Linked DNA regions of Homo sapiens: region 2 is linked to region 1. The links come from fine-mapping of genetic effects on gene expression. A gene starts in region 1. The other region holds a variant in brackets. All regions are shown on one strand. Distances are between the middles of the regions. Region 1 holds the start of NUCB1 (nucleobindin 1). Region 2 overlaps NUCB1 (nucleobindin 1).

Region 1 (5,256 bases):
GCAGTCCCAGCTACTCCAGAGGCTGAGGCAGGAGGATCGCTTGAGTCTGGGAGATGGAGATTGCAGTGATTGCACCACTGCACTCCAGCTTGGGTGACACAGCAAAAATAAAAAAAAAAAAAAAAAAGAAAAAGGAAAAGAAAAAATGAGGTGGCTCATGCCTGTAATCCCACCACTTTGGGAGGCCGAGGCAGGCAGATCAAGAGGTCAAGAGATCGAGACCATCCTGGCCAACATGGTGAAACTCCGTCTCTACTAAAAATACAAAAATTAGATGGGCGTGGTGGTGTGCGCCTGTAGTCCCAGCTACTCGGGAGGCTGAGGCAGGAGAATCACCTGAACCTGGGAGGCAGAGGTTGCAGTGAGCCAAGATTGCACCACTGCACTCCAGCCTGGTGACAGAGCGAGAAAGAAAGAAAGAACTCAACTCACGCCTCCCTTCCTCCCTGACTGTCACCCCTGGTGTTCACTCTCATAGAGCCCTGCCCTTTGTCTTCCATCTCCCAGTGAGCAGGGATAGTCCATGGGCATGGGGCATGCACATGGCTGGGCCCTAACAACTATGCAACACATAGGCAACACTATGCCCGGCTCATAGAAGGTGCTCAGGAAACATGTGGAATGGAAGAAAAGAAATGGGACTCAACAAAGCCTTCCTGGGTCTGCAAGGATTTCACAGAATAGAGGCCTAACTTGCAGCGTGGGGACCAGGAACATGCAATGATCCGTTCCAGGGGGTAATGACTAGCCCATTCTTTGTTTTTTGAGACAGTCTCAGAAAACAGAGTCTCAGCTCTGTTGCCCAGGCTGGAGTGCAATGGCGTGACCTTGGCTCACTGCAACCTCCACCTCTCTTGGTTCCAGCACGAGAATTCGTGCCTCAGCCTCCCAGAGTAGCTGGGATTATAGGCGTGAGCCACCACGCCCAGCTAATTTCTGCATTTTTGGTAGAGATGGGGTTTTGCCATGTTGGCCAGGCTGGTCTTGAACTCCTGACCTCAAGTGATCCGCCTGTCTCGGCCTCCCAAAGTGCTAGGATTACAGGCATGAGCCACTGCGCCTGGCCTGACCAGCCTATCCTTATGGGGAGCTATAGGAAGATTCGGACCACAAGACACTCACTGACCTTCAGGATCTCCAAAGTTCCAAATCCCTTAAGACCAAAGCTTTTATTGGGTTTGATAAACACATGTAGGAATTAATAAACAAGCAGTTCACCCGCCCTTCTGTAATTTAAACTACAACTCCCAAGAGCACCATGAAGTCAGAATACCCCAGCTAGCCAACATCAACTGCTACTGGGAACTAGCAACATGGTGCTACTGGGAAATGTAGTTTTGTTTGTTTGTTTTCAAATTCCTTCTTGGGTGGAGAGAATCTTAAAAAAACAGACGTTTAGTTGGGGCGTGATGCAGATTTTCCACACCTCAGAGTCAGGGACCTCCAGTTTTTCACCAAGTCAAACCCCTGCTGCTGGGAGGAATGGTGGGCAAAAAACAAGCTACAACTGTAGGGCCAGGAAGTCACTGGAGCATCCGCCCTACGGGCACCGGGGTCTGCAGGAGCTGTAGTACCACTGCAAACACCTGGCTGGATAGCAGGGCAGGGCCACTCACGGGACTCTCAGTCGCAGGGGTCTCCTCCTTGTTGGGCGCCCCTCGCTCCAGGGGGACAGCCAGCACGGCGCGAAGCAGGAGCAGCAGCAGCAGCGGCAACAGAAGGAGGGTTCCTCGGGGCCCAGAGGGAGGCATGGCAGTGTGGTCTGTGGGGGATGGAGGGCTGGATAATGCATAATGTCTGTCCCAAGCCTCTTCCTCCCCTGGAACCAGGAGTTCGGGCCCCCAGCGCCGCCCCCACTTCCAAGAATCAAGACACAAGCATTTTGTTACCCAGGCCCCAGGATTCCAGGCCTCCGGCCTTCCCTTCCTCCGACACAGGAGTCTGGGCCCTCAGACCCAGGGGTCCTGGCTCCCAACACGCTCCTCTCTCACACTCAGGAATCCGGGATCTCGGCCGCCTCCTCCCCCAGACCCAAGAGTCCAGGGTCCCAGCCTCCTCTTTTCCCAGGACCTAAAGTACTGGCACCCAGTGCATCCTCCTCCGGGACCCAGTTTTCCAGCCCTCTGGCCCCCATCCTCCCTAGGACCCAAGAGTATGGGAACCCTGGCCTCTCACCTCTCCTTCACCGCAGAGGGCGTTTTCCAGGGCGGGCAAGGACCTCCGGTGCGTTCTTGGTGACTTCCCCCCTAGACCACGCCCACTTATCCACAGAGGCCCCGCCCCAAAGAGGTCTGATTGGTCCACGCTGGCTCTGTAGCTTTCATCCACGTCCAGCGGCCCCGCCCCTTGCCGAAGCCGCTCGCATTTTCGTGAAAGCCTCGCTTCTTTCTCGGAATCCCAGCCTCTTGACGCCACATTTCCCGCCTATGCCAAAAGAGAGAGAAGGCTTTCAAAGATAACTACAACTCCCTGCCGGCCGGGGGAAAAATAACTTCCGCGGGCATCGTGGCCCCTTCGCCTCATGGGAGCTGTAGTTTTCCCATTTATTTTCGCCCCACGAAGTGCCTGGAAGTTATAGCGCGGTAGCAATTGCATAGCCTTTCTTATGAGTTTCTTTCTTCTTCTTCTTATTATTCGAGACAGGGTTTGCTCTGTCACCCAGGTTGGAGTGCAGTGGCGCAATCACTTCTCACTGCAGCCTCTACCTCCCAGGCCCAAGCAATCCTCCCGCGTCAGCCTCCCAAGTAGATGGGACCACAGGCCACACTACCATGCCTGGCTAATGTATATTTTTTAAATTTTTAATACAAATATTTAAATCTTTAATTCTTTTTTAGCCTTTTTTTTTTTTTAACGTTCTGTCTTTCACACTTCTCACACTTTGTTGTTGTTGTTTTTTAAAGAGACGGATGTCAAGCCGGGCTTGGGGGTTCACTCCTGTAATCCCAGCACTTTGGGAGGCTGAGGCAGGCAGATCACCTGAGGTCAAGGGTTTGAGACCAGCCTGGCCAACATGGAGAAACCTCGCCTCCACTAAAAATACAAATTAGCCAGGCGTGGTTGCGCATGCCTGTAATCCCAGCTACTCAGGAAGCTGAGGCAGGACAATCTCTTAAACCCGGGAGGCGGAGGTTGCAGTGAGCCGAGATCGCGCCACTGCACTCCAGCCTGGGCGACAGAGTGAGACTACGTCTCAAAAAAAAAAAAAAATCTCTGTGTTGCTGGTCTGGATCTGGATCTCCTGGACTCAAGCAATCTTGCCTCCCCGTCTCCGCCTCCCAAAGTGCTGGGATTACAGGCGTGAGCCACTGCGCCCCGCCTCTTTTAAGTTTCTTGTAAGCGAGATGTGTACAGTGAGGCCGCGAGGTCTCTGGTCTCCCGCTCTCTCTCTCTCTTTTTTTTTTTTTTTTTGAGACGGTGTCTACCTCTGTCACACAGGCTGGAGTGCAGTGGCGCGATCTCAGCTCACTGCGAGCTCCGCCTCCCGGGTTCACGCCATTCTCCTGCCTCAGCCTCCCGAGTAGCTGGGACTACAGGCGCCCGCCCGCCACAACGCCCGGCTAATTTTTTTGTGTATATATATATATTTTTTTTTAGTAGAGACGGGGATTCACCATGTTAGCCAGGATGGTCTAGATCTCCTGACCCCGTGATCCGCCCGCCTCGGCCTCCCAAAGTGCTGGGATTACAGGCGTGAGCCACCGCGCCGGGCCGGTCTCTGGTCTCTTTAAGGAACCCCCACACGGCATTCGTGTTCAGAACCCCCGGAGCAGGGTTGCCTGGCTGCATCAGTGACCGAGTTCGTTACTTTGTTGGAAGTGGAGAGTGGAGGGTCAGAAGGGAGTGGACCAGTTCAGGTCCCAGAGGGAATCCTCCCTCCCTCTGAGCCGTCTTTCTTCTCCTCCCTATTTCGCAGATATCCCGAGATTAGGTCCCCAGCTTCCAAAGAGAGGATCAGGTATGTTTAGAGATTGGCCAGAGAGGCAAGGTACCGAGGCATCAATGTGAGCAGCCTCTCCAGGCACCTGGTGAGGAGAACAAGTCTCCCGGATCCCAGGCAGGTGGGCAGTGGAGTTCTAGGCCGCTGGGGGCTGGGTGTTTGAAGTGCACAGTCCTGAGTTCTGATGCCTGGGTGCTGGAGAATTAGATATTTGGGGGAGAGAGAAGCGGACTTGCGGACCCCCGTGGGAAGCTGGAAACAGGCTACTAGATCCCGACAGGAGTGGGTGCTGGGATTCGGGCTGCCTGGGTCCGGAAGCAAATTTAAAGGTAAGGATCAGGCCGGGCACTGTGGCTCATGCCTGTAATCCTAGCACTTTGGAAGGCCAAGGCGGGCAGATCACCTGAGGTCAGGAGTCCGGCACCAGCCTGGCCAACATAGTGAAAACCGGTATCTACTAAAATACAAAAAAATTAGGCAGAATAGCGGACGCCTGTAGTCCCAGCTACTCGGGAGGCTGAGGCAGGAGAATCGCTTGAACCCAGGAGGTGGAGGTTGCAGTGGCCGAGATGGCGCCACTGCACTGCAGCCTGGGCGACAGAGCGAGGCTCAGCTGTCTCTAAATACATAAATAAATAAATAAATAAATAAATAAATAAGGCTAAAGATTAGGTGCTGGTGGGCAGGATCCATTGGGATGTTGGTTCTGATCCTGACTCCTCATTCTTGCTTCTGCAGAATGTCTCAGGATAATGACACATTGATGAGAGAGTGAGTAGGGAAACAGATGGGTAGGGGTGGAGGTGGAAAGGGCTGGGGACCCCGTGCACTCGGCTCTGGCTTCATAACCATGTTTGCAGGTTCAGCACCATCGGCCTTGCAGGAAGGGGCTGGGGACCTGGACTCCTGTGTCCTGAAGGGATGGGGCTAGGGTGCAGACTTCTGGGTCTGAAAGAGAAGGGGTTGGGGGCCCCAGACTCCTGAATCCTGAGACAGGAGGGACCTGGGATCTCTGGGTCCCGGCTTCTGTGGGCCAGTGCCAGGAGAAAGGGCCCTATAACTGGTGGAGCAGGCTCAGGTTCTGCACCTCCTGTGACCTCACAGGTGCCCAGAACCCAAGCTGAGATAGGGGCAGGATGGGGGAAGGAGGGACTCTCTTGGGCAACCGAGGTTCCCTGTGCACTGTCACCATGGGCCTGTGTCTCTCTCAGCATCCTGGGGCATGAGCTCGCTGCTATGAGGCTGCAGAAGCTGGAACAGCAGGTATTGTGCCCAGGAATCTCACCACTCCAACTCTTCCGCCTTCTGTGCCTCCC
Region 2 (5,474 bases), 22 kb before region 1:
TGGCATGATCTCGGCTCACTGCAACCTCTGCCTCCTGGGTTCAAGCAATTCTCCTGCCTCAGCCTCCTGAGTAGCTGGGACTACAGGTGCCTGCCACCACGCCCAGCTAATTTTTTTAGTATTTTTAGTAGAGAAAGGGTTTCACCGTGTTAGCCGGGATGGTCTCCATCTCCTGACCTCGTGATCTATCCGCCTCTGCCTTCTAAAGTGCTGGGACTACAGGTGGAGCCACCATACCTGGTACATTCTTTTTTTTTTTTTTGAGATGGAATCTTGCTCTGGTACTCCGGTTGGAGTGCAGTGGTGCAATCTTGGCTCGCTGCAACCTCCGCCTCCCAGGATCAAGCAATTCTCTTGCCTCAGCCTCCCGAGTAGCTGGGATTACAAGTGCCCACCACCACACCCGGCTCATCTTTGTATTTTTAGTAGAGATGGGGTTTTGCCATGTTGACCAGGCTGGTCTTGAACTCCTGGCCTCAAGTGATCCCCCCTATCTTGGCCTTTCGAAGTGTTGGGATTACAGGCGTGAGCCACAGCACCTGGCCAAATTCATCTTTTAAAAGTTGCTTAATCCCGGCCAGGTGCAGTGGCTCACTCCTGTAATCCCAGCACTTTGGGAGGCTAAGGTGGGCAGATCATGATGTCAGGAGTTCAAGACCAGCCTGGCCAATATGGTGAAACCCCCATCACTACTAAAACAATGCAAAAATTAGAAGGCCGGGCGTGGTGGCAGGCAGCTGTAATCCCAGCTACTCGGGAGGCGGAGGCAGGAGAATCGCTTGATCCCAAAAGGCAGAGGTTGCAGTGAGCTGAGATTACACCACTGCCCTCCAGCCTGGGTGACAGAGTAAGACTCCATCTCAAAAAAAAAAAAAAAAAAAATTGCTTAATCCCAGGTTTGGGTTTTCTGTCCTTGTGGCTGAAGGGACCCTGAGTGAAGGCTGCAGACTCATCAGGGGCAGATGGAAAAATACCAGGATTGAGCCTCTCAGAAGTGATGCTTGAATCCAGTCTTCAAAGATGAGGACTCCGGCAGGTGACGTGGCAATAGCGTTTTGGAGGGACCAGTCCAGATACACAGGCATGGAGCCATGCATTTGTTCCAGAAAGTGTATTTGGATGGAACCGGAACATGGAACAGGACACACAGCAGGATGCGGAGCAGTGTCAGATGAGGCCAGAAAGGTGGGTGGGACTGGTCTTCAGGGGCTCCAGATGAGGCTGAGGGGCTGGGCCTAGGTCCTGGAGTGGGGTCAGCTCTGGGACCCTTCTGGGGCTGTGTGGGGAAGGGGCTGGGGGCCAAGAGGTCCAGGAGGAGGCTGGCGATGAGATGGCTGGAAGCCAGGGGTTCAGGGAGGCCCAGGCTCCTGGTATCAGGGTTCACCGGCTATACTGAGGATCCCCTGCCCCTGGCACCCAGCTGTGGAGGGGACACTGTCTTTGAGGCATCACTGGTTCCACAAAAGGTAGGGGAAGGTCTTGAGGGACCACCCCATGCCCTCATTAATCAACCAGAAGCTTGGCCCGGAGCAGCAGCGGGGATTCCAGTAGCTGTGGGCATACAGGATGCTAGGGCGGCCACAACCCAGGCAGCTGAGGCCGAGCCACCTAGGAACGCAGGCTCAGAGCAGACCCTCTTGGGACAGACGGAGAAGGGGAGGGGGCGGGCTTCTCTAAGTTAAGCCGATCACTGAGCACCTCACTGGACACGAGAGAAGGCAAGCCCCTCGGAGGACAGAAGGGAAGAGCCACAGACTTGGAGGCTGTGAAAGTGGAGACAGGTGGACCTGGGGTGGCAGCAATGCGTGAAATGCCAGGCCGTGCCCCCGCCCCAGGAGCCCAACATGACACCAGCCCCCAGGGAAGCTGACTGTGCCACTTCATCCAGCGCCCATCAGTCGCCTTGGAGCATCAGGAATCCTGAGGGCTGGGGTCCCGGAGGATCACAGATGCTGGGGCACCTCAACCTCAGGGAGCCGCTCGAGAAGTTTCTTTTCTGAAGTGTCCACCTCCTTCTGGTCACCGGCTGGAGCTGGGACAGGTACATCGTCTGGAAATGGAGGGAGGGAATGGTGGCACAGGACATCCGAACCCCTCCTCCCCCAGGACCCCAGAGGCCCAGCCCCTCCTCCCTCACACCCAGGGGTCCAGCCCCCAGCCCCTCCTCCCTCACACCCAGGGGTCCAGCCCCCAGCCCCTCCTCACTCACACCCAGGGGTCCCAGCCCCTCCTCCCTCACACCCAGGGGTCCCAGCCCCCAGCCCCTCCTCCCTCAGACCCAGG[A/G]GTCCGGACCCCCAGTCCCTCTTCCCTCAGATCTGGGAGTCTGGGCCCCCAGTCCCTCTTCCCTCAGATCTGGGAGTCCAGGCCCAGCCCCTCCAACCTCAGACCCAGGGGTCCAGCCCTGCAGCCCCTCCTCCCTGGACTAGGGCCAGCACCTGTGTCTGGGTGGAACTTGAGCTGCCCCTCAGGGTGGGCAGCCGGGGCCTTGTGGCCTTGCTGCTGCTGCTGCTGCTGCTTCCGCTGCTCCATGTGCAGCACAGCCTGTGGGAGGTGGGGGGTCACACAGACAAGAGGGTGTGATGCTGGCATTGCAAGTGCTCAGGCCTCAGTCCCCAAACGGAGACTTCACAGCAGCCTGCTAAGTGGTCACGGCCAACCCCTTCTCCGTGGGCCTCAGTTTCTCTCTTTCATTGACAGTCGGGCTTAATAATAGTCAAGGATCCAGTTCTCCCTCCAGTCACAGCTTGGGTCTTGCTTTGGGACAGGGAAACCCTCACCCATCCCTGGCTGAGTCTGCCTTTCTCCCCCTCCTGGGCCTTTCCCTCCTCACTTACAGCCTTAATGCCCTTATCTCACATGGCAGCCACAGAGCCGTCAGAGACGGGAAAACGTCTGCCCTTACTCAAGATGGCGGTGAATACTTGAGGCTCCCCCAGTGATTAACATGGTGGCCACAGGCCTTCCCAGCTTCTGGACACCCATGGGGACACGGACACGGGCAGCCAGAGATTCAGTGGATGGAAGCAGCTTCCCCCGCTGTCACCTGCTGCAGCTCTCTCTTCTGGGCCTCCAGGCGGCCCTGGGACCGCCCTAGAGCCTCTGTCTCCTGGCTGAGGCGCTGGGCCTTGGCATTCAGCTCTGCCTCCCGGGCAGCCAGCTCCTCTTCAAAGCGCCTCAGCTCTTCCTCGGTGTAGGCAGGGTGCATCTCCACTGTCTGCAGGGCAGGCACAGGGGCCATCAGGGGCACAGGTCCAACCTCGGCCCACCCATGTTGGAGAGGGTTGTGCCAATGGGGGAGGTGTAGAGGAGGCTGGGAGGCCAGGGCCATGTGGGTGGGCAAAGAAGCCCAAGTGGGAGGTGGGAGTGGGATAAAGACCGAGAGACAAGGCCGGGCACCATGGCTCCCACCTGTAATCCCAGGACTTTGGGAGGCGAAAGTGGGAAGGATCACTTGACGCCAGGAGTTCAAGGTCAGCCTGGGCAACGGAGCGAGACCCTGTCTCTACAGAAAATTGGCTGGGCATCTTGAAAAATATATAGAAATAGGCCAGGCACCATGGCTCACACCTGTAATCCCAGCACTTTCGGAGGCCGAGGTGGGTGGCTCACCTGAGGTCAGTAGTTTGAGATGAGCCTGACCAACATGGAGAAACCCCGTCTCTACTAAAAATACAAAATGAGCAGGGCATGGTGGTACATGCATATAATCCCAGCTACTCAGGAGGCTGAGGCAGGAGAATTGCTTGAACCTGGGAGGTGGAGGTTGCAATGAGCTGAGAATGCACCATTGCACTACAGCCTGGGCAACAAGAGCAAAACTCTGTATTGAAAAATAAACAAACAAATAAATAAATAAATAAAACAGAGACCTAGATTAGCTGGGCATGGTGGTATGTGCCTGTAGTCCCAGTTACTCAGGAGGCTAAGGAAGGAGGATCACCTGAGCCCAGGAATTCAAGGCTGCAGTGAACTATGATTACACCACTGCACTCCAGCCTGGGTGACAGGAGACCCTGTCTCAAAAAATATTAATAAATAAATAAAAGAATGAGCTAGATTAGCTAGGCATGCTGGCATGTGCCTGTAGTCCCAGCTAATAGGGAGGCTCAGGCAGGAGGATCACTTGAGGACAGGAGTTTGAGGCTGCAGTGGGCCATGATAACACCCCTGCACTCCAGCCTGGGTAATCCCAGCACTTTGGGAGGCTGAGAAGGGTGGATAGCTTGAGTCCAGGAGTTTCAGAGCAGCCTGGCCAACATGCAAAACCCTGTCTCTACCAAAAAATACAAAAATTAGCTAGGTGTGGTGCGGTGGTGCATGCCTGTAATCCCACCACTTAGGGAGGCCAGGTCAGGTGGATCGCTTGAGTCCAGCAGTTCTAGAGCAGCCTGGCCGATATGGCAAAACCCCATCTCTACAAAAAATACAAAAATTAGCCAGGCATGGTGGCTCACGCCTGTAATCCCAGCTACTCATGAGGCTGAGATGGGAGGATCGCTTGAATCCAAGAGGCGGAGGTTGCAGTGAGCCGAGATCCCACCACTGGGCTCCAGCCTACGCGACAGAGCAAGACCCTGTTTCAGAAAAAAAAAAAAAAAAAAAAAAATCACACCTCTAATCCCAGCACTTTGGGAGGCCAAGGTGGGTGGATAACCTGAGGTCAGGAGTTTGAGACCAGCCTGGCCAACATGGTGAAATCCTGCCTCTACTAAAAATACAAAAATCAGCTGGGTGTGGTGGCACGCACCTATAATCCCAGCTACTCAAGAGGATGAGCCAGGAGAATTGCTTGAACCTGGGAGGTGGAGGCTGCAGTGAGCCGAGATCGTGCCACTGCACTGCAGCCTGGGCGATGGAGTGAGACTCCGTCTCAGAATAAATAAATAAATAAATAAATAAATAAATAAATAAATAAGAGTCCTAGAGACAGGGGAAAACAGAGACCCAGAGATAGAGATGCAGTGACCCAGGAGAATGGACGGGGACCCAGAGAGAAAGAGAAGGGGCCTAAGATTCTGAAAGAAAGGTCATGGCTAGAAGAGAGAGAGGTTCAGGACCCCGAGTATCCCCCATGTTCTCACCTCCCAGCCCTCCCCGGTGTCCCCAAACTCCTTCCTCTGAGTGGATGCGAGGAACTCCTCCAGGGTCACGAGGCGGTCCTGGTTGGTGTCCACCTGGGGAGCCAGATAAGGGTGAGTGACAGAGCTGGGGGCCCGTCCTCTCCCCCGCCTGGCCCCCACCTCACATTCTTCATCACATGCTCCCGCATGCGCAGTCGCTCCTCCTCCATCTCCCGCATGTCGTCCTCCTCATTCTTTGGGTCGTACACTTTCTCCAGCTGCAGGAGCAAGCGAGAGGCAGACAGCATTGAGAGGTCCCCAGCGAGCTCATTCCCGACAACTTCAACTCCCAGCAGTCCTTTGGGCACGCTACCACTCCTGGGAGCCGTTTTTGCCCCAGGGGCTGATGGGAGT

The links.
Region 2: its variant is fine-mapped to the expression of NUCB1 in tibial artery (GTEx, PIP above 0.99). The same link has a PIP of 0.9 or more in aorta, esophagus muscle, gastroesophageal junction, sigmoid colon and subcutaneous fat.

Annotation. Positions count from the first base shown.
Region 1 is chr19:48,897,292-48,902,547 of GRCh38, reverse strand. NUCB1 (nucleobindin 1) reads right to left here and starts at 2,236. Exons shown (of 13, transcript NM_006184.6): 1 at 2,176-2,236; 2 at 1,617-1,762. The coding sequence starts at 1,751. It overlaps TULP2 (TUB like protein 2), which reads left to right and starts at 3,804. Exons shown (of 13, transcript NM_003323.3): 1 at 3,804-3,958; 2 at 4,679-4,711; 3 at 5,152-5,203. The coding sequence starts at 4,680. RefSeq lists a cis regulatory region at 3,060-4,059 and an enhancer at 3,594-4,409.
Region 2 is chr19:48,918,894-48,924,367 of GRCh38, reverse strand. NUCB1 (nucleobindin 1) reads right to left here. Exons shown (of 13, transcript NM_006184.6): 9 at 5,246-5,338; 10 at 5,082-5,174; 11 at 3,044-3,214; 12 at 2,436-2,541; 13 at 996-2,050. The coding sequence ends at 1,944. Among named protein-coding and RNA genes, the nearest start is that of NUCB1-AS1, 2.7 kb to the right of the region's middle. RefSeq lists enhancers at 1,133-1,632, 4,779-5,278. The variant A/G (reference allele first, on the strand shown) is at 2,284.